Linked DNA regions of Homo sapiens. The protein of the gene in region 5 purifies or fractionates together with the protein of the main gene of each other region. This does not show direct contact. Each region holds a gene or a part of one and is shown on either strand. Other genes may lie near its edges. The genes, in order: C1QTNF9, SLC7A8, TSPAN15, CELA3A and DCBLD2.

Region 1 (4,393 bases), on a different chromosome or scaffold from region 5:
AGTGCAGTCTATCATGGGCCCCTAGAAGCCCAGCTAAAATTTCTATTACTCTGGATGAAGGTGAGAAGGGGTGTTGGAGATTACTAGCAACTCCACGAAAGCACTGACAAGGATCAGAGTTGATACCCAGTCACCTTCCCAAGTGATGGTCCACACACAGTTGGAACCAGGATAGTATTTCTTGCATGCCTGCATTGATTCATTCAACAAATACTTGACTGAAAATAAGGAAGTAGAAAAATGCAGTCACCATCTTCATAAAGCTCTAACCCAGGTTGGTGCCTACTAAGTGATCATTAGTCTAGGTGTGGTGTACAGAGTAAGTGGGGACTGGGGAGGACAGTAATTCAGATGAGAGAGAGAGTGGATGATTGCAGGGAAAGATGGGAGACAGAAGAGGCTCCTAGCTCTAGTGCCTTCTGGGAAAAGACCAGACCCAGAAATTAAAAGTCAAGAGTGTAACTGTAGTTGAACTAATGAAACTGAGGGTCCAACCCATAGCTTTGTGAGAGGCACAAATGTAATTTTTTATTTTTCAAAATAACATTAATATAATTTCTTCTATATTCCTTGTGCAAATCCTCAACCTTCTACATTAAAGAAGAGGCTAAATAGGAGGTATAAACTTGCTAAAATTTCTTATTAAAAAATAGTGCCAAGCGGCCGTGTGCAGTGACTCACACCTGTAATCCCAGCACTTTGGGAGGCCGAGGTGGGCGAATCACAAGGTCAGGAAATCGAGACCATCCTGGCTAACATGGTGAAACCCCGTCTCTACTAAAATACAAAAAATTACCCGGGCATGGTAGTGGGTGCCTGTAGTCCCAGCTACTCGGGAGGCTGAGGCAGGAGAATGGTGCGAACCCGGGAGGCAGAGCTTGCAGTGAGCCAAGATCGCGCCACTGCACTCCAGCCTGGGCGACAGAGCGAGACTCTATCTCAAAAAAAAAAAAAAAGAAAAAAAAAATAGTGCCAACCTAGGTGGTGACCACGTCTCTAATCCCAGCTATTCAGAAGGCTGAGGCAGGAGGACCACTTAAGCCTAGAAGTTCGAGTCCAGCCTGGGCAACATTCATGAGACTGTATCTCTATAAACAAACAAACAAACAAACAAATAAAACAGAAATAGTGGCACAACTTACTTTGCTACGTATTTGGGAGAACGCATATTAGTTAATCAAAATCATTTGCTGAAGGTTGTCTACATGCTGTATAAACAAGCTAGATAGACTCTACCTACATCAAATATGCAAAACTAGTGAAATAATTACAGAAGAGTAACCATTTGCTTCCAGGCTGGCTTCTTCTTCCCTGGAGAGCAAATTGGAGTTTATCCTAACCTGACACCTTTATGATCTTCTGATCATTTTATTCCTGGAATAGTTGTACTCCACATTTTGAAAAGTTAAAATGAAAATTATAGAACCCTCAACAAAGTTTGGTTGATGGAATTTCGATTTGACTGCTTCCGGCCACTTCTGAGTTTAGCAAAGGAGGCTCGTGTATATTCTTCATGGAATTTGGCTCCAAGAAAACTCAACTCAATTTCCTGGAATGGAGCGAATTTGTGACTTCGAAGGGAAGCATCTGCATTTCCTTTCCCAAAAATACTCCATTTGCATTAGACTGCTCCCTGTGACATTTCCACCAGATGGCAATACAGTCTTTGGATGACAGAGAGTCTTGCTGGTTTTCAAAATCTCTAGAAATATTTGTGTAGGCACTATAAAAAAGCATTTTTTATAAATGAAAAGCTCCCATAACTGCCCCCCATTCTAAAGCAACCATCTTTATTTGCATATATTCACTTTGAGTTTTTGTCAATATTCATACAGTCGTAAGTACATTTATAATGTGCATGGCATTTTAGTCTACTATCAAAATTCAGCACAATGTATATCATTTACATATTTCTACATGACCTTCATAATTATTGCAGCAGTTACATACTATTACACATAGTAAACCTTTCCCCTATTGTTACATAGTATGTAGTATGCACGTTTTCACCTGTTATAGATAATGCTGCAGGTAATGGCACACAATTGGCACACAGTTTTGGAACATTAGGAAGAATTTTAGGGATAGCAATACAGGGTGAAAGACATAGATGTCTTTTGCTCTTTAACTTTTCCAGAAAGATGTGCAGATTTACATGGCTATCAGCACTGTGAGAGGATCTGGGTTCTGACCAGTTGCACTATGCCCACGTTTTTGTTTTACTTCATTTTTTTAAATCCTAAAAGTCAGGTACAGGGTCTTTAGCCTGTAATACTAGCACTTTGGGAGACTGGCGGGAGGATTACTTGAGCTCAGGATTTCAAGACCAGCCTGGGCAACAGAGTGAGACCCAGTCTCTCCAAAGAAAAAAAAAAAAAGAAAGAAAGAAAAATAGGCAATGGCTCATGCCTGTAATCCCAGCACTTTGGGAGGCCAAGACAGGCAGATCACCTGAGGTCAAGAGTTTGAGACCAGCCTGGCCAGCATGGTGAAACCCCGTCTCTACTAAAAATACAAAAATTAGCTAGGCGTGGTGGTGGCGCCTGTAGTCCCAGCTACTTGAGAAGCCGAATTGCTTGAACCTGGGAGGCAGAGGCAGCAGTGAGCAGAGATCGGCCATTGCACTCCAGCTTGGGCCACAAGGGCGAAACTGCATCTCGAAAACAAAACAAAACAAAACCAAACCCAGGTGTGGTGGTGCATGCCTGTAGTCCCAGCTACTTGGGAGGTTGAAGCAAGAGAATCGCTTGAGCTGGGAGGTTGAGACTACAGTGAGCTGTGATTGCATGACTGTACTTCAGCCTGCGTGATGGAGCAAGACCTTGTCTCCAAAAATTATATATAAGGAAAGGACTTGAAAATGCATTTCTCCCGAACTAGGTGATGTTTCCGTGTGTGTGGCCCTTCTTCACAGTGGCCTCCTAGAAAAACAAGACCCTGACTCAAAGAACACCTCTCACTACAGTAAGACTTCTTGGAATGCTTTACTTTTTTAAAAATTTAATTTAATTGTTTAATGTGGTAAAAAATATATAACATAAAACGTAAAACTAACCAGCTTAACCATCTTAAGGGCACAATTCAGTGGCATTATGTACGTTCTCTTTGTTGTGCAACCATCACCACCACCCATCTCCAGAACTCTTTTAAAATCTTCCCAAACAGAAACTCTGTACCCATCAAACAACTCCCATTTCCTTCTCTCTTCACCTCTGGCAACCTCCATCCTACTTTTTCTTTATATGAGTTTGACGGCTCTAGGAACCTCTTATAGGTGAAATTATCCAGGTCTGTCTTTTTGTGACTAGCTGGTTTCACTTCGCATAATGTTCTCGAGGTCCATTCATGTTGTAACATGTGTCAGAATTTCTTCTCTTTCTAAGGCTGAAGAATATTCCATTGTATGGACCTACCACATTGCATGTATCTATTTATCCACTGAGGGACCCTTGGGTTGCTATGGAAAATAATGCAACTACGAACATGGACATCTGTTCCAGTCCTTGCTTTCAATTATTTTGTGTAGATGCACAGCAGTGGAATTGCTGGATCAGATGGTAATGCTATGTTTGCTTCACTACTTGGAATGTGCCTTTATGCATATCGTGATAAAATTTGATCTGTACGACAGTCCTGTGAGATAAGTAAGCATTGATCTCTGGTTCAGAAAAGTGATTTCTTCAAAGTGAAATGATGAACGGAAGAGTATCCTGACCTTAAACTTGGCTTTTTAAATTGCCCGTTCACCTTGAAGAGTGGTTCCAATCACAAGTGTTACCTTCCAAGGACAGTGTCATTCTGGTTATAATCAGCTTGCTCCCCTGCCCTGAGCCTTCTGTCCAAGTTTGTGCAGGTGTGGGTCTGGGGCAGGGGACAGCTCATCCATTTCCCACTGCACGGAACAGAGGCTGTGTCCAGGGCCCCAGCAACAAAGATTTCTCCTTTGGGTTTCTGTTTCCCTCTTTCAGTTCAGAGTCTGTCATCTGAACCATGAGGATCTGGTGGCTTCTGCTTGCCATTGAAATCTGCACAGGGAACATAAACTCACAGGACACCTGCAGGCAAGGGCACCCTGGAATCCCTGGGAACCCCGGTCACAATGGTCTGCCTGGAAGAGATGGACGAGACGGAGCGAAGGGTGACAAAGGCGATGCAGGTACTCACCTGACGGCTTCGGCTGCCTTTCAACTTCTCTCTTCATTCCTTTCATCTCATTCACTCATCATCTGTGTGATTTTCCACCTACCCACTCACACCCCATCCATCCATACATACATCAACCCAGCAACACTCACTGGAGCCTGACCCCATTCATCCATCCACCCATCTGCCCAGCAACACTCACGGGGTCTGCTCCATGCCAGACTCTGTGCCAGGTGCTGGTGGAGAGCAC
Region 2 (4,393 bases), on a different chromosome or scaffold from region 5:
CTTCCATGAGGAGTCAGGAGCTTCTGCTCTTGAAGTCAAGTTCCCTGTTGCCCTTTGGCAACATGAAGCCAACTAGGGATTGTGTCTCCTTTTGATGGGGTTCCTGGGGAGCAGAAGAGGTTGATGTGCGCTGTGGAATGTGTAGACTGAGATGATATTGGAAGGCTAATGAATTGTGATATTTTAAAATTCATTTATTAAATACTTGCTGAGCATCTACTATTTGCAGGCGCCAATGATAAGTCCTGAGATTTAAAAACATGAAAACATTTACTTGCCCTTGGTGTCTTAAAAAAAAAAAAATTTTTTTTTCTTTTTTTTTTGAGATGTGGTCTAGCTCTGTCACCCACGCTGGAGAACACTGGCACAATCTCGGCTCACTGCAACCTCCGCCTCCCGGGTACAAGTGATTTTCCTGCCTCAGCCTCCTGAGTAGCTGGGATTACAGGCGCGCCACCACCACGCCCAGCTAATTTTTGTATTTTTGGTAGAGACGGGTTTCACTGTGTTAGCCAGACTGGTCTCGAACTCCTGACCTCATGATCTGCCCACCTTGACCTCCCAAAGTGCTGGGATTACAAGCGTGAGCCACCATGCCCGGCCAGAAGCAGGTCATTTTAATACAAAGAAATGCATCCCGGCCGGGCGGTGGCTCCTGCCTGTAATCCCAGCACTTTGGGAGGCTGAGGATCATGAGATCAGGAGATCGAGACCATTCTGGCTAACACGGTGAAACCCTGTCTTTACTAAAAATACAAAAAATTAGCTGGGTGTGGTGGCGGGCGCCTGTAGTCCCAGCTGAGGCAGGAGAATGGCGTGAACCCAGGAGGCAGAGCTTGCAGTGAGCCGAGATCGCGCCACTGCACTCCAGCCTGAGCGACAGAGTGAGACTCCGTCTCAGAAAAAAAAAAAAAAAGAAAAAGAAAAAAGAAATACATCCCAACATTAGATATAAACAAAGTGGTCTGGGATTGTTCTAGAGAGAAGGAACAAACTTTGTTCCTCGTCTACAAAACACAGCTGATATATCTTCCCTTGCAGGCATGTTGTTAGGAATAAATAACATGCTGAATTATAGAGATTCACAGAACAGGTGACATTTAAGCTGGATCTTGAAAGAGGAGAAGGGGTTTGCCAGGTGGAGATGGCGCACAAAGGAAGGTTACAGACGGTTAATGTCAGGACCATCCTACCCTAACCAAATGTTCTCAGCATCAAATAAGGTTGGGAAATACTTGGAAAGTAGAAGTACCATATAAGAATACGGTACTGATAAAACTTGATCAGCCATTCAAGTGAAGTCAGAGCGACCACACCACCCAGCTTATTTTTAAAATTTTTTGTAGAGAATTACAACTCCCCATGCCACCAAAGAAGATTTGTAAATGGATGGTAAATAAGCACATGAAGAGTTGCTCAACATCATTAGCCATTAGGGAAATGCAAATCAAAACCATAATGAAATACAACTACATGCCTATTAGCCAAAAAAAAAAAAAAAAAAAAAATTGTGTTTAAACTGACAATACCAAATGCTGGGAAAGATACAGAGCAACAGGAACTCTGACATGAGAGTAGGAATGCAAAATGAGACAGCCACTGTGGAAGACAGTTTGGCAGTTTCTTAGAAAGTTAAACACATTTACTCTATGGCCCAGGATCTCATTCCTGGGGATTTACTCAAGAGCAATGAAAACCCCACTCAAAGATCTCTACAATCCACAAAAAGAAAAAAGACATCTACACAAGTATTTATCACAACTCTATTCATAATAGTCCCACACTGTGAGCAACCCAAATGTCTATGGAAAAACAAACAGATACCTTTATATCATAGAATGCTATTTGGCAATAGAAAGGAACAAATTGTAATATATGCAACAACATGAGTAGATCTCGAAAGCATTCTGTGAAGTGAAAGAAGCCAAACACAGAAGACCACATATTATATGATTCCATTTATGTGACATTTTGAAAAAGACAAAGCTATAGGGACAGAAGTCAAAGTAATGGTTGTAGAGGTAGGGGAAGAAGATTTGCCTAACTGACTACAAAGGAGCATGATGCAAAAGGAAACTTTTTAGAGTGTTGGGAATGTTCTATATATGAAGTGCTGAAGTGATTAAGCCATTAAATGCATTTGTCAAATCTCATCAAACTGTACACTTTAAAAAGGTGAGTTTTAGTAAGATGTAGATTATATCTCAATAAACCTAAGTAACATAAGATTCCCCTAAGCCTCTGTTACCCCAAAATCAGGCTCAGGAAGGTGGCTTCCTGACTCCCACCAGCTGCTCACAGCTTCTCTTGCACAAATAATAACTTGAAGACAAAGCCCATACTTGTGCCCTGATCAGATGTGATTTTACCCCCAAAGCCAGTGCCTACACTTCCATGCCTACTTCTGGCTTCCAGCCCTCAGCAGGGCATGCTGGGCCCAAGCTCTAATTTGGGACATATAATCCCCATTTGCAACCCATTAACCTAGCCAAAGTCTCTGGTCCCTGGGGTTGAGCTTGCTGGATGTCTGGCTCACCTACTACAATGTCATCGTCAGGATGAGGGAGCAGTTCTGCTTGTGTGCCTTGGGCATCATGCAGCCAGATACAGCCCCTGAAGGTCTGTTTGGGGGTCTTTCATTTCAGTGCTCCTCACATGGGTCAACTGTTCCAGTGTGCGGTGGGCCACCCGGGTTCAAGACATCTTCACAGCTGGGAAGCTCCTGGCCTTGGCCCTGATTATCATCATGGGGATTGTACAGATATGCAAAGGTGAGTATCGCAGGAAAAACAGGTACTGCCCAGCTTTCCTCCCCTTGCATGTACACACCCTCTCAGCCCAGCTTTGGAAGTATGCCACACCCTGAGATTTCCCCAATTCTAGCCTTGAGTGACTTCTCTTCTTCTTCCCTTGCTTGACAAAAGGGAAGGAGAAACCATTTTCCCCGAGGTGGCTGGGAGTAGGGAATGCTCCCTTTAGGCTGCAAAGGTCACCTCTCCCATGCTTACCTCAAGGCTGTAGCACAGCTAGGTAAAGACCCCACATATCGGCCGAGTGTGGTGGCTCACACCTGTAATCCCAGCACTTAGGAAGGATGAGGCAGGAGGATCACTTGAGCCCAGGAGTTTGAGACTAGCCTGAACAGCACAGCGAGATCCCATCTCTACAAAAAAATTTAAAAATTAATGGGGCATGGTGGTGCATGGCTGTGGTCTCACTTACTCTGGAGGCTAAGGTGGGAGGATCACCTGAGCCCAGGAGTTTGAGGCTGTAGTGAGCTATGATTGTGCCACTGCACTCCAGCCTGGGCGACTGAGCAAGACCTTGTCTCAAAAACAAATAAACAAACAAAAACCCCAGATCTCTAGATTCCTATTGTCTTTTTGCCCCAACCCCAGGGAAGCTCCCTGCATCTTCTGTTGAATCTTGTCCACATCTTAAAGTGGAGGACAGAGAAAGGTATTTTATGTTTCAAAATTACTTATAATCTCTGAGAGAGAGAGCTCTGCATTCCCGGGGCCCCTGCCAACATTCCCCACTGGATTTGGCCCTTTCCAAGCCTGAGGCTATATTTGGTTTCCATGGGACCCATGGCACCATGAGGCTCTGCCCAGCGTCACTGCCTCACGGAGAAAGTCAGGTGACAAACAGGGAAATTTCCCACAAGCCCTGAAGGCAGTGTGGGCAGCCCGGACTTCTACTCCAGGAAACATAATTAAGTTTCTGCTATATAATATGCCTGATTATTTTAAACAGTTGGATTAAGTTCTTTAACAGGTTATATATTGCTTTCAGGCATTTAGACTTAAGGAAATCACTGCGCTATCTTGTCAAAAATAGTGAGTCCCTCCTAAGCTGGCCTCAATTCTTTCTCCTGGTCACACTAATCTCCTTATTTCCTGTCCCAATGCTAAACTGCAGATGAATAAGTAACATATGATCAGTTACTCTCTATCTCATTGAAATTTTAGCCAGTCAGCAGATGATTCCAAGGGCCCACAGTCTGCAGCACACTGTGCTAGGGGGGCTGGGAAGGCAGTTTAAACAGCTCTTTGCTTAAAAATTCCTGTCCTTGGGGAATCTTGAAAAGAGAGACGGCCAGGCATGGTGGCTTACGCCTGTAATCCCAGCACTTTGGGAGGCCAATGCAGGCAGATCACTTGAGGTCAGGAATTCGAGACCAACCTGGCCAACATGATGAAACCCTGTATCTACTAAAAATACAAAAAAAAATTAGCCAGGCATGGTGGCATATGCCTGTAACTCCAGCTACTCAGGAGGCCAAAGCAGGAGAATCACTTAAACCTGGGAGGCGGAGGTTGCAGTGAGCTGAGATCGCGCCACTGCACTCCAGCCTGGGCGACAGAGCGAGACTCCGTCTCAAAAAAACAAA
Region 3 (3,244 bases), on a different chromosome or scaffold from region 5:
CTCACCACAACCTCCGCCTCCCGGGTTCAAGCGATTCTCCTGCCTCAGCCTCCTGAGTAGCTGGAACTACAGGCGCGCACCACCATGCCCGGCTAATTTTTGTATTTTTAGTAGAGATGGGGTTTCACTATGTTGGTCAGGCTGGTCTCGAACACCTGACCTCGTGATGGCCCACCTCAGCCTCCCAAAGTGTTGGGGTTACAGGCGTGAGCCACCATGCCCGGCCTCTTGCTACTTTATTTCTATTGCCCTGGCTACTAAGAGCCTCACAAAAAATCTAGATCCCATGTCTTCTGGCCCGAAGGTTTGAGTGGACTGACGCACGCAAGTCCCGGCATCTCCAGCAGGGGTCGACCGACACCACGCTCTGCATGCGTTGCGCGGCAGCCATTAGGCACACTGAGGGCTGCAGGGAGCGCGGTAGGTGGACCTGTGGGCAACTCCGCTTCCCTGGTCCCCCACCCCATCCACCCCATTTCCTGGAGGTGGAGCCTCATGCTGTACCTGGCCCAGGCTGTTTCCCTCGGTTCTCGGTAAAATAGGCGTGGTCACCTCTGGCCCTGAGGCTTTCCCCCCAACCCCCCACCTGTATCCCAAGCTATGCCAAATCTTCACCCCATGCACCCCCTTCATCCTCGCATCCACAAGGGGTTTCCAAATCCAGGTTGCAGCCTTCCTTACCCCCGCCCCAACAAAACAGCACACAGGAAAGGCAAAAAAAAAAAAAAAAAAAAAACATGTTTTTATTGTTTGATTAACAAACTGGTTGGGGGAAGGGCAAGAATAAGACATGCGGGGAAATACCAGCTTTGATTAGTCAGAAACTCCTGTTATCTGTACAAAAAAATGAATGTTACAAAAATCACGTAAAAAAACTAGGCTCAAGGAAGCAGCCGCCCTTGCAAGAGGGCTCAAGGCACCTGGGAGGCTGAGAAGAGGCCAACCTGGCCATGGGCGTGGCTGCATGGACAGCTCTTCCCTCCTGCCCTTCCCCAGATGCCCTTCCCTCCTGCCCCGAGGGGCACACTCCCTCTCCCCAATTACAGGTGCTACAAAACTGCCTTGAATACCACCGCCAAGGCACTGCCAGAGATGAAATGGGCCCTGAGCAGAGCCTCAGGCTCTCCCTCCCCCGTAGCCCAGGCCTGGAGAAAGGAGGGCCTTGTTCCCCAGGCCCCAGGTGGGCACAGATTCCAGAGCTGCCTCGGGGAAAGCCTCTTAGGGGAGGCCCAGGCTCTGCTCCCTGGGGAGGCAGAGGCCGTGGGACCTACACACAGGCACACACAGCCCTGGCTTTGGTCAGTACTGAGTGTGGGCAGAGGGGCCGCAGCCCTGTCCAGCCCCACGATGTTGACTGAGAGGTGCTATCCCAGACGGTCCTTGTTGGAGCTGCCATGGCAGGCTGGGCCCTAATTGGGGTAGCACAAGCAGCATCCCGTGCCTGCCGCCTCCACGCTGGGCTTGGCACCGGGCCCCAGGAGCCCATCAGTGACAGAGTGCTCCATGATGATGTCCTCCACCCGGGTGATGTACAGCAGCGTCAGCAGCACCCCCAGGAACTGAGAAGAAGGGGCAGGGCTGGTGAGGGCCTGCTGGGAATCAGGGCAGCCCTCCCTGCAGCTCCCGGCTCCCAGAAACCCAAGCAGCCAGTCCCAAGCCCTCATGGTCCTGTGTGACCTGGGCAACACCCACAGCAGAGACTTCTCCCAGCACCCACACTGCCCAAGAAGCTCCCACCTGGGCCCCCTCTCCCCTTCCCAGGAAATCCCAGAGCGCCTCGCTGTGCCCCATCAGCAAGGGCCCCTCCCTTCTGGGATTCCTGCCTCCACCCCAGCTCTGCTGCACACTATCTAGGGGATCTTGGCAAGTCACTGAAGCTTGCTGCTCCTCAGTTTCCTCCTCTGTGAAATAGGCATTATAATAGTGCCTCCCTCACAAAAAGAAGTGAAGCAGCAGTGCCTGCGCAGCACTTGGAAGAGCTTCGCCACGACTGCTATTGCCATTTGCCCCTCCTTCCAGCCATGCAGCCCTCCCCAGGCAAGTCCTGGACTTCTATGAAAAAAGCCTCTTCGCTCTTCCCCTCTGCACCTTCTCTGCCCTTCTGCAATCACCAAGTCACACTTTCTCTGAACCCACGGCCTGCCCACCTGGGGAAGCAGGATGCCCAGGAGGATGCCCGCCATGATGGTGTAGTTGTCCATGAACCAGATGATCACGGCGTTGGTGCAGCCCCGCACGTAGATGACATCCTGCACACTGAAACGCTGCATGGGAAGGAGCTGGGTCAGCCCAGCAGAGGACCTCGGCTGGCAGGAGCCACAGCCCCGACTCTGCCATGTACACAAGGTCCAGGCTAGTCCCTCAACCGCTGTGATCCTCAGTTTCCCATATGCAGCATGAGAAGGTGACCCTAGATTCTGATTCTTAATGGACAGTACTGTTCTCTAGAGAGGACTGGGGACACCGTGGTGGCACTTTTGGTTGCCCCAGCAAACGAGGTTGGCGGCTGAGGGACTGCAGAGCTCAGGGTAATCCTACTCCACAAACAACTGCCCTGCCTGTGTGCTTCTCAGATGTCCCTGCATGAAAAGCCTCACGGATGTTTTCCATACATGAAAAGCCTATTTATAATTATCCAAGCCAATAGCCCCACTCCAGGTACATATAAAAAACAAAGCAGAGTTGGGCATGGTGGCCAGTGCCTGCAGTCCCAGCTACTATGGAGGCTCAGTTGGGAGGAGTGCCTAAGCCTAGGAGTTTGAGGCCAGCCTAGGCAACAGTGAGACCCTGTCTGTCTCTTAAGGGAAAAAAAAAAAAAAAGCATTTCTGCATTGGTTTTAATATACAAAGAATTTTCCAGAAGTACTACTAGGTAAATTAAGGAATGATTACACATTATTTAATTCAGAACTTTATCAAGAATTGTTCACCGTTTTTAAAAACCATGCCAGTGGCAAAAATGATGCCCATGGTATGTGAGTCGCCAACACAATGCCCAGTATCAGCTGCCCTGTAGCTACTACAGCCTCAGGGATGCCTCACATCAGTGCAGACACCTGACTACATTGTGTCTTCTGCACCCCCCACTGCCTAAGCACTTACATGATGAACTATGTTAAACAGCTGTAAATTGCTGTATTTCATTTCTACTTTATCTCAGATCATTATGTTAATTGTATTGGAATTGGGCATGTAGGTAGGTTATCTGTGAATTTCACTTGGGGATAATAAATAGGACATTACC
Region 4 (4,393 bases), on a different chromosome or scaffold from region 5:
AGGGATAGAACTTACCTCATGGGGGGGTTCTTGATTAAATTGTTAACTAAGGTTCTCTTTACAATGCCCAGCACAAATTTAGATGGGATGTGTATGTATATATATATGTATATGCATGTGTGTGTATATGTGTGTGTGTATATATATACGTATTTGTGTGTATATATACGTATGTGTTTGTGTATATATATATACGTATGTATGTGTATATATATAAACAAAATCTATATTTTTTTTGTTTTTTTGGTTTTTTTTGAGACAGAGTCTCACTCTGTTGCCCAGGCTGGAGTGCACGATCTCAACTCACTGCAACCTCCACTTCTTGGGTTCATGCCATTCTCCTTCCTCAGCCTCCCAAGTAGCTGGGACTACAGGCGTACGCCACCATGCCTGGCTAATTTTTGTATTTTTAGTACAGATGGGATTTCACCGTGTTAGCCAGGATGGTCTCAATCTCCTGACCTCGTGATCTGCCCACCTCGGCCTCCCAAAGTGGTGGGATTACGGGTGTGAGCCACCACGCCCGGCCTTTTTTTTTTTTTAAGACAGAGTCTTGCTCTGTCACCGAGGCTGGAGGGCAGTGGCACAATCTCAGCTTACTGCAACCTCTGCCTCCTGAGTTCGAGCAATTCTTCTGCCTCAACCTCCCAAGTAGCTGAGATTACAGCGACGCACTACCACGCCTGGCCAATTTTTTTATATTTTTGTAGAGACAGGGTTTCACCATATTGGCCAGGCTGGTCTCGAACTCCTGACCTTGTGATCCACCTGCCTTGGCCTACCAAAGTGCTTGGATTACAGGCATGAGCCACCGTGCCTGGCCTTATATATATATTTTTTTAACATGGGTCAGGGAACCAAGGGATTAAATGGTCTATAAATCATCACTGTTTTTTTGTTTGTTTGTTTGTTTTTGTTTTTGAGATGGAGTCTTGCTCTGTCACCCAGGCTGGAGTGCAGTGGCGTAATCTCGGCTCACTGCAACCTCCGCCTCCCAGATTCAAGCAGTTCTCCTGCCTCAGCCTCCTGAGTAGCTGGGACCACAGGCATGCACCAATACGCCCGGCTAATTTTTTGTATTCTTAGTAGAGATGGGGTTTCACCATGTCGGCCAGGCTGGTCTTGAACTCCTGACCTCAGGTGATCCATGGGCCTTGGCCTCCCAGAGTGCTGGGATTACAGGCATGAACCACTGCACTCGACCAGAAATGTTTTTTTATTGGAAGGCTTCATGACTTTGCATGTCATCCTTGCGCAGGGGCCGTGCTAATCTCTATATCATTCCAATTTTAGTACATGTGCTGCCAAAGCAAGCACTACTGTTTTATTTTATTTAGTTTATTTTCATTTTTTTAAGAGAGAGGCTCTTGCTGTGTTGCCCAGGCTGGAGTACAGTGGCTATTCACAGGTGTGATCCTACTACTTTTCAGCATGTGAGTTTTGACCTGCTCTGTTTCTGACCTGGGACAGTTCACCCCTCCTTAGGCCACCTGGTGGTCCCCACTCCCAGGAGGTCACCACATTGATGCCAAACTTGGTGCAGAACCTGATGGGTATAGCGCACTATGGCCCAGAACTCCAGGGCTCAACCGATCCTCCTGCCTCAGCCTCCCAAGTAGCTGGGACTACAGGTGGGCATCACTGCACCCAGCTAGCTATTACTCTTTTTTTTTTTTTTTTTTTTTTGAGACGGAGTCTCGCTCTGTCACCCAGGCTGCAGTGCAGTGGTATGATCTCGACTAACTGCAACCTCCACCTCCCAGGTTCAAGCAATTCTCTGCCTGAGCCTCCCAAGCAGCTGGGATTACAGGCACCCACCACCATGCCCGGCTAATTTTTGTATTTTTAGTAGAGACAGGGTTTCACCATCTTGGCCAGGCTGGTCTTGAACTCCTAACCTCGTGATCCACCTGCCTCTGCTTCCCAAAGTGCTGGGATTACAGGCATGACTATGCCATGCCCAGCTATTACTCTCTTTTTTTTTGTTGTTTAGCTATTACTGTTACCATGAGCGTTATTAGTCCTCTCTGATCACCCATCCCCAGATGAAGTCTGGGGCCTGGACTCCCCTCTCTCGGCTCTCATCAGACTGCATCGTTCTCATTCATGTAATCACCTGTCCCCCACCAGGCAGCCTCTTGTCTGGCATGTCTCTCTATCCTCCCTGACAAGAGAGGACAAGACCAGAGGAGATACTTTATAAATACTTGTTGAAATAAGGAAGTTCAGCTGTAGTTCCAAGCACCACCCAGAAGCCATCAAGTTCCTGGGGTCACACTGTATCAGAAAACATCCCCAAGCCTTTCTGGAATGTCCCCAAGGGCCCTTCCCCACTGAGCTTCTAGGATCCTTTCAGGCCCTCCCCAGGATCCGATGTTTCTCACCTGTCACCTCTCAGAAGAGCCACCACCCTAAAGCCCTCCGGGCCGCCCTGCCCTCCTCACCTCCTCAATCCAGTCGATGAAGGCGGAGACTCGAGTGAACACCGTGGGCTTCCAGATGAAGTTGCAGCCAAAGGCAGAAACAAAGCTGGTCACACCGTGGACCTGCCAGCCACCATCCTCTGTGGGGCAGTTGAGGGGTCCTCCAGAGTCACCCTGGAACCGTCAGAGAGGAGTGGGTGGCTGAGCCATGTCTGAGGTTTACGGAACTGGTTCTGAATTCTAGGGATTTCAAGAAACTCTGACATTACTTGACACCTCTGAGCCTTAGCTCGCTCATTTTTTTATCATTTATTATTTTTATTTTTTTAGATGGAGTCTCGCTCTGCTGTCCAGGCTGGAGTGCAGTGGCGCAAGCTTGGCTCATTGCAACCTCCGTCTCCCGGCTCCCAGGTTCAAGTGATTCTCCTGCTTCAGCCTCCCAAGTAGCTGGGATTACAGGCACCTGCCACCACACCCGGCTAATTTTTGTTTATTTATTTATTTATTTTTTATTAGAGACGAAGTCTCACTCTGACGCCCAGGCTGGAGTACAGTGGCAGGATCTCAGCTCACTGCAAGCTCTGCCTCCAGGGTTCACGCCATTCTCCTGCCTCAGCCTCCCAAGTAGCTGGGACTATAGGTGCCCACTACCACGCCCGGCTAATTTTTGTATTTTTCGTAGAGACGGGGTTTCACCGTGTTAGCCAGGATGGTCTCGATCTCCTGACCACGTGATCCGCCCGCCTCAGCCTCCCGAAGTGCTGGGATTACAGGCGTGAGTCACTGCACCCAGCCATATTTAATAGAGATGGGATTTCACCATGTTGGCCAGGTTAGTCTCAAAGTCCTGACCTCAGGTGATCCACCTGCCGGGGCCTCCCAAAGGGATTATAGGTGTGAGCCACCACGCCCAGCCAGCTGACTCATTTGTGATAGGGAATAGTAGTATCTGTCCAAGAGCCTAGGGAATTACATGAGATGATGCACGATCTTAGCACGATATCCAGTAGAGAAGAAGCACTCGATAAACATAGTTCTTATTAGTGGCACCATAGTTAATTATTAATTCATACTCAATTACAATACAATGAGGGTATTTGATAGTATTTTTTTTTTTTCTGAGTCAGCGTCTCGCTCTGTCACCCAGGTTGGAGTGCAGTGGCGCGATCTCGGCTCACGGCAAGCTCCAACTCCTGGGTTCACACCATTCTCCTGCCTCAGCCTCCCGAGTAGCTGGGACTACAGGCGCCCACCACCACACCCGGCTAACTTTTTGTGTGTTTAGTAGAGACGAGGTTTCACCATGTTAGCCAGGATGATCTCGATCTCCTGACCTCGTGATCCGCCCGGCTCGGCCTCCCAAAGTGCTGGGATTACAGGCGTGAGCCACCGCGCCCAGCCTTTGTTTTTTTTTCTTAGACAAGGTCTTGGCCAGGAAAGTGGCTCACATCTGTAAACATAACACTTTGGAAGGCCAAGGCAGGAGGATTACTTGAGCCCAAGAGTTAGAGACCAGCCTGGGCAACATGGTGAGACCTCATCTCTACAAAAAATTTAAAAATTAGCTAGGCATTGTGGCACACACTTGTACTCCTGGCTGCTTGGGAGGCTGACATTGGAGGGTTGCTTGAGCCCAGGAGGGCAAGGCTACAGTGGGCTATGATGGCATTACTGCACTCCAGCCTGGGCAACAGAGCAAGATCCTGTCTCAAAAAAAAAAAAAAAAGAGACAACGTCTTGCTGTGTCGCCAGGCTTGGGTGCAGTGGCAAAAATCATAGCCACTGTGAGCTTGAACTCCCAGGCTCAAACAATCCTCCCACCTCAGCCTATCAAGTAGTTGGGACTACAGGCGAGTGCCACCATGCCTGACTAAGTAAAAAAAGTTTTTCTGTAGATGGGCATCTCACTATATTACCTAGGCTGGTCTCAAACTCCTAGCCTCAAGCAATCCTCCCACCTCAGCCTCCCA
Region 5 (4,393 bases):
GGTCCAGAAGTCCCAAAGCTAAGAACTTGGAGTCTGATGTTCAAGGGCAGGAAGCATCCAGCATGGGAGAAAGATGTAGGCTGGGAGACTTAAGCCAGTTTAGTCTTTTCACATTTTCTTCTGCCTGTTTTTATTCTGGCCGTGCTGATGCAGATTAAATGGTGCCGACCCAGATTGAGGGTGGGTCTGCGTGTCCTAGTCCACTGACTCAAATGTTAATCTCCTCTAGCAACACCCTCACAGACACACCTGGGAACAATACTTTTCATCCTTCAATCAAGTTGACACTCAGTATTAACCATCACAGTATTTAATTCGTAATAGCTTTTTGTTTCCATTGTAATGAGACTCTTTTTTTAAGGTAGTGTTTCAGTAAAGTGGTCTTGAGACATCTAAAATAACGGTCTCCTACAGTCATTAAGAGAAATTTATGTTAAAGGAGTCCATTTTAAATGATGAGATCATTAATTTTCCACATGTGGAGAGTATAAATTTAATTTAGGGGAACTTAGCAAATGGTCGGAATAATTGGTTGGGATTGGTTTAATTTTGTTAAAATATTTATTTTGTTTTGGTACTGTAAATAATACCAATAATCATCTTTAATCTGTTCATTCCCAGGAAGTCATCTTACCCAGTAGTCAAAATCTATTTTACGACGTTATAAACACAAGACACCAAAACAGAATAGTTCTTTACTTAATTAATGCCCACCCATAATCCTTCCTCTCTCTCCAAGGGAATAAGGCCAAGGATTTAGTAATTGTTATGACAAAAACGTGCACTTGGATATGGAAATGAGCCATAATTAGAAATGTTCGAGCTGTGCATTTCAAGTGTTTATACTTTGATGCTGAACAAACTTAGGGAATCAGACCATGTGCATTAATGAAAGCAACTCTTCATTCCCCAGGCATTATAACCACTGGATCCACCATGGTGGAGCACAATTACTATGTGTCTGCCTACAGAATCCTGTACAGTGATGATGGGCAGAAATGGACTGTGTACAGAGAGCCTGGTGTGGAGCAAGATAAGGTAAAATGATTACCAAGGTATTTTTAAAAAACATTTTTTAAATGGGTGGTTGCCAAGTCACAGAGCTCTCCTGTATAAAAGAGATGTAGAAGTTTAGAATGTCTTATACTACCCTCTTGTGGTTATTTTAGGTAGTGTTATTGGCCTTACTCTACTGACTTTAGAAAATTCTCAGTAGTTCTAGGTTCCTTTTGGTGATTGTAACGGTGAGTACTTTTCTGATTTTTGTCATTGCATTTTTAATTGAATTGTTTAGACACTTTATTAAGAAAGTCTAAAAGGGACCTTGTAATTTCTTATTTTTATGAAGCTTTTTTCAATTCACCAGATGATGGAGAGCCTTTGTTCCCAGATTTCTACTCTGTAGGCAAGAGGTAAAAAAAGAAAAAAGCTGAAAACCAACGTGCATTAAATTATAGGATATTAGAGATGAAAATTCATCTGAAGATCATCTCACCAACTTTCATCTTGGGAAACTTCTGTTTTTTCTTACATGAAGAATTGCTCTAGCATCTAATTATGGAATCTTTGTTTTAGTTAGCAACAATTTATGAAGATGCTGGAATGAGCCAGAGGAAATGATAAGGGGTGGGGAGCAGGCAGAGATGGGTCTTATTCAGATGTGTATCCCTTTGATCTTTAAATGGAGAAGTCCTTGTGCCTAAGGAAGATAGATGTCTCCCATCAGTACCAAAACTATGGGGCTGGGCATGATGGCTCACTCCTGTAATCACAGCACTTTGGGATTGCTTGAGCTCAGGAGTTTGAAACCAGCCTGGGCAACATGGCAACACGCCATCTCCACTAAAAATACAGAAAATTAGCCAGGCATGGTGGCGCATGCCTGTAGTCCCAGTTTCTTGGGAGGCTGAGGTGGGAGAATCACCTGAACCCAGGAGGTTGAGGCTGCAGTGAGCTGTGATCACTCCACTGCAATCCAGCCTGGGCGACAGAGGGAGACTCTGTCTCAAAGTGGAAAAAAAAGAACTGAAACAATGATGACATTTTTTCAAACTTTCCTATGAGTTTGATTTTGATTATATATTTTTGTTTTTTATCATGTATGATTTGCTAAAAAGTCTTCAATTACTACTTTTCTCATCTCTTTGTTCAAAAACCTCCAGGGGCTCATTATCTTTCATATGCATCTTAACTCCTCTGCTTTTATTCAAGGCCTCTTTCTTCTCTTCTACTTGGCGTCACATGAACTTCATCTTTGGTGAGCCTCTCCCTGTTAAAGAAAATAACAATACTGTCTCCATACATATCTTCTACCTCATGCCCCTAAACTTGACTACTCTTTACTCCTGCCACATCCATATTCATTTGTATCACATTTATTTTGCTTGTGGAATATAGCTAAATTTTTGGAATGTTAAGAATTGTTCAGGCTTATACTATAAAAACTTCTAAACATTAAATGATATTTCTGAAAAAGATTCTATGTTGCATTCATTTTTGAAAGGTAATTTCTCTAAGTGTAGAAATCTGGGTTGATCAGTGGTTTTTTGGTTTTTTTTTTTTTTTGGTTTTTCCTTTCAATAATTGAAATACGTTGTCTGCTGTTTGCTGGCTTGCATTGTTTTTGACAAGAATTCTGCTATTATTTCTGTTCCTCAATATGTGATATGTCTTTTTTTCTGTGGCTCCTTTTAAGGTTTTCTTTTTATCATTTGTTTTAAGCAGTTTGATTGATGTGGCTTTTTTATATTTTTCTTCTTTTTTTTTTGCGTGGGGTTCTTTGAGGTTTTTGGATCTGTAGGTTATGATTTGCATCAAATTTAGAAAATTGTAGTTCTTTTTTTTTCAAATATTTCCCTTCCCCAATTCTAATTTTATGAATATTATGACCCTTGAAGGTATCTTACCATTCACCAATGCTCCGTTCTTTATTTTTTTCAGTCTTTTTCTCTTTGTATTTTAGTTTGAAAGTTTTCTGTTTTGTCTTCAAGTTCACTAATCTATTCTTCTGAAATGTCTAATCTGTTAATCCCATCCAATGTATTTTTATCTCTGATACTGTATTTTTTATCTCTAGATGTTCAGTTTGGGAGTTTTAAGATGTCTCCAGTGTGTCTTTACATGCTCATGCTTTTCTCTATCTCTGGAACATGGAGCATATATAATAGCTCTTTTAATATCCTCATCTGCTAATGTTATCCTATGTCATATATGGGTCTTTTTATGTTGATTGATATTATGGATCATATTTTACCTGCCCGAATTTTTTTTATTGGATGCCAGACATTGTGTTACATTGTTTGGTGCTGGGGTTTTTTGTTATTAATATTCCCTTAAGTATTTTTGAGCTTTATTCTGGAATGTAGTTAAGCTACTGGAAACAATGTGATATTTTCAAGGCTTGCTTTTAAACTTCATTAGGCAGGACCTGGACAGCCTTCAGTTTTCTTATTTTTCTCCCCCACTGAGACAATACTGTTCTAAGTACTCACTGCAGCATCCCATGTATTATGAGGTTTCTCTGTTCTACCTCTTGGCAGTGTAAGGAATTCCCAGATCTACGGAGCTGTGAGACTTGTCCTGCTGACTCATTCCAGTGTTTCTTTTACTGGCCATAGGTCATTTCTTTACATGCAGCTGAAGATTTAAGGGATAACTCCTTATATATTCTAGAAGTGTCTCTCTCTCTCTCTCTCACTCACTCTATCTTTATAGCTCTCTTCTCTCCTAATCTCTGCCTACAAATTCTAGCTACCTTATTGGCCTCCCACTCTCAGCTCTGTCTCTGCAACTCAGTGAGACCGGCAGGCTCTGTTAGGGATCTCTCTCCCTGCACTGTGGCCTGGAAACTCTTCTATAGACAGTACTGGGGCAATAAATAGCAGGGTTCACCTTATTTGTTTCCCTTCTTTCCGTCATTATTGCCCAAGGCAGCCTGTTATCCAGTTTCTCAGGTACGTATAGGGCTGAACAATAAGTCTAATCCGTTACTCTTATGGTCAGAAATGCAAATCTTCACATTGAATTGTATGAATTAACAGTCTTTTCCCGCTCATGTAAGTCCATCTGCTCCCTCATCACCTCCAACCCAAGGGTAATTGGTGTATTCATTTTACCCCTTTTCTGAGCCTGCACATGTGCATGAGTACGCAGAGACTGCATTTGGTTTTGTTTTTAGAAAATGGGATTTATATATATATATACAATTTGTTTTCATAATATATCACTTTCTAACATTATGCCATATTTATGTGTGGTAATCAATAAAATTTAAGTTTCTTGAGGGTGGGAACTGTAGCAACCATATCCATTTTCTCTTCATGACACCTCACATACTTCTCTGTACATGAGGATTCTCAGTAAATGCTCATAGGTTGACTATAGCAAATCTTTT

The links.
Region 1: the proteins of DCBLD2 (region 5) and C1QTNF9 purify together in Homo sapiens (co-immunoprecipitation; one large-scale study listed by IntAct). This does not show direct contact.
Region 2: the proteins of DCBLD2 (region 5) and SLC7A8 fractionate together in Homo sapiens (co-fractionation; one large-scale study listed by BioGRID). This does not show direct contact.
Region 3: the proteins of DCBLD2 (region 5) and TSPAN15 purify together in Homo sapiens (co-immunoprecipitation; one large-scale study listed by IntAct). This does not show direct contact.
Region 4: the proteins of DCBLD2 (region 5) and CELA3A purify together in Homo sapiens (co-immunoprecipitation; one large-scale study listed by IntAct). This does not show direct contact.

The regions. Positions count from the first base shown.
Region 1 is NC_000013.11:24,312,014-24,316,406, forward strand, and holds part of C1QTNF9 (complement C1q and tumor necrosis factor-related protein 9A precursor), read left to right. Parts: intron 1-2,880; exon of another isoform or gene 2,881-2,964; intron 2,965-3,968; 5' UTR 3,969-3,990; coding exon 3,991-4,156; intron 4,157-4,393. UniProt on the Homo sapiens protein: Probable adipokine. Activates AMPK, AKT, and p44/42 MAPK signaling pathways.
Region 2 is NC_000014.9:23,141,457-23,145,849, reverse strand, and holds part of SLC7A8 (large neutral amino acids transporter small subunit 2), read left to right. Parts: intron 1-2,645; coding exon 2,646-2,771; intron 2,772-4,393. UniProt on the Homo sapiens protein: Associates with SLC3A2 to form a functional heterodimeric complex that translocates small and large neutral amino acids with broad specificity and a stoichiometry of 1:1.
Region 3 is NC_000010.11:69,505,144-69,508,387, reverse strand, and holds the end of TSPAN15 (tetraspanin-15), read right to left. Parts: intron 2,265-3,244; coding exon 2,148-2,264; intron 1,560-2,147; coding exon 1,410-1,559; 3' UTR 722-1,409; downstream 1-721. UniProt on the Homo sapiens protein: Part of TspanC8 subgroup, composed of 6 members that interact with the transmembrane metalloprotease ADAM10.
Region 4 is NC_000001.11:22,007,909-22,012,301, reverse strand, and holds part of CELA3A (chymotrypsin-like elastase family member 3A preproprotein), read right to left. Parts: intron 2,598-4,393; coding exon 2,445-2,597; intron 1-2,444. UniProt on the Homo sapiens protein: Efficient protease with alanine specificity but only little elastolytic activity.
Region 5 is NC_000003.12:98,814,414-98,818,806, reverse strand, and holds part of DCBLD2 (discoidin, CUB and LCCL domain-containing protein 2 precursor), read left to right. Parts: intron 1-913; coding exon 914-1,038; intron 1,039-4,393.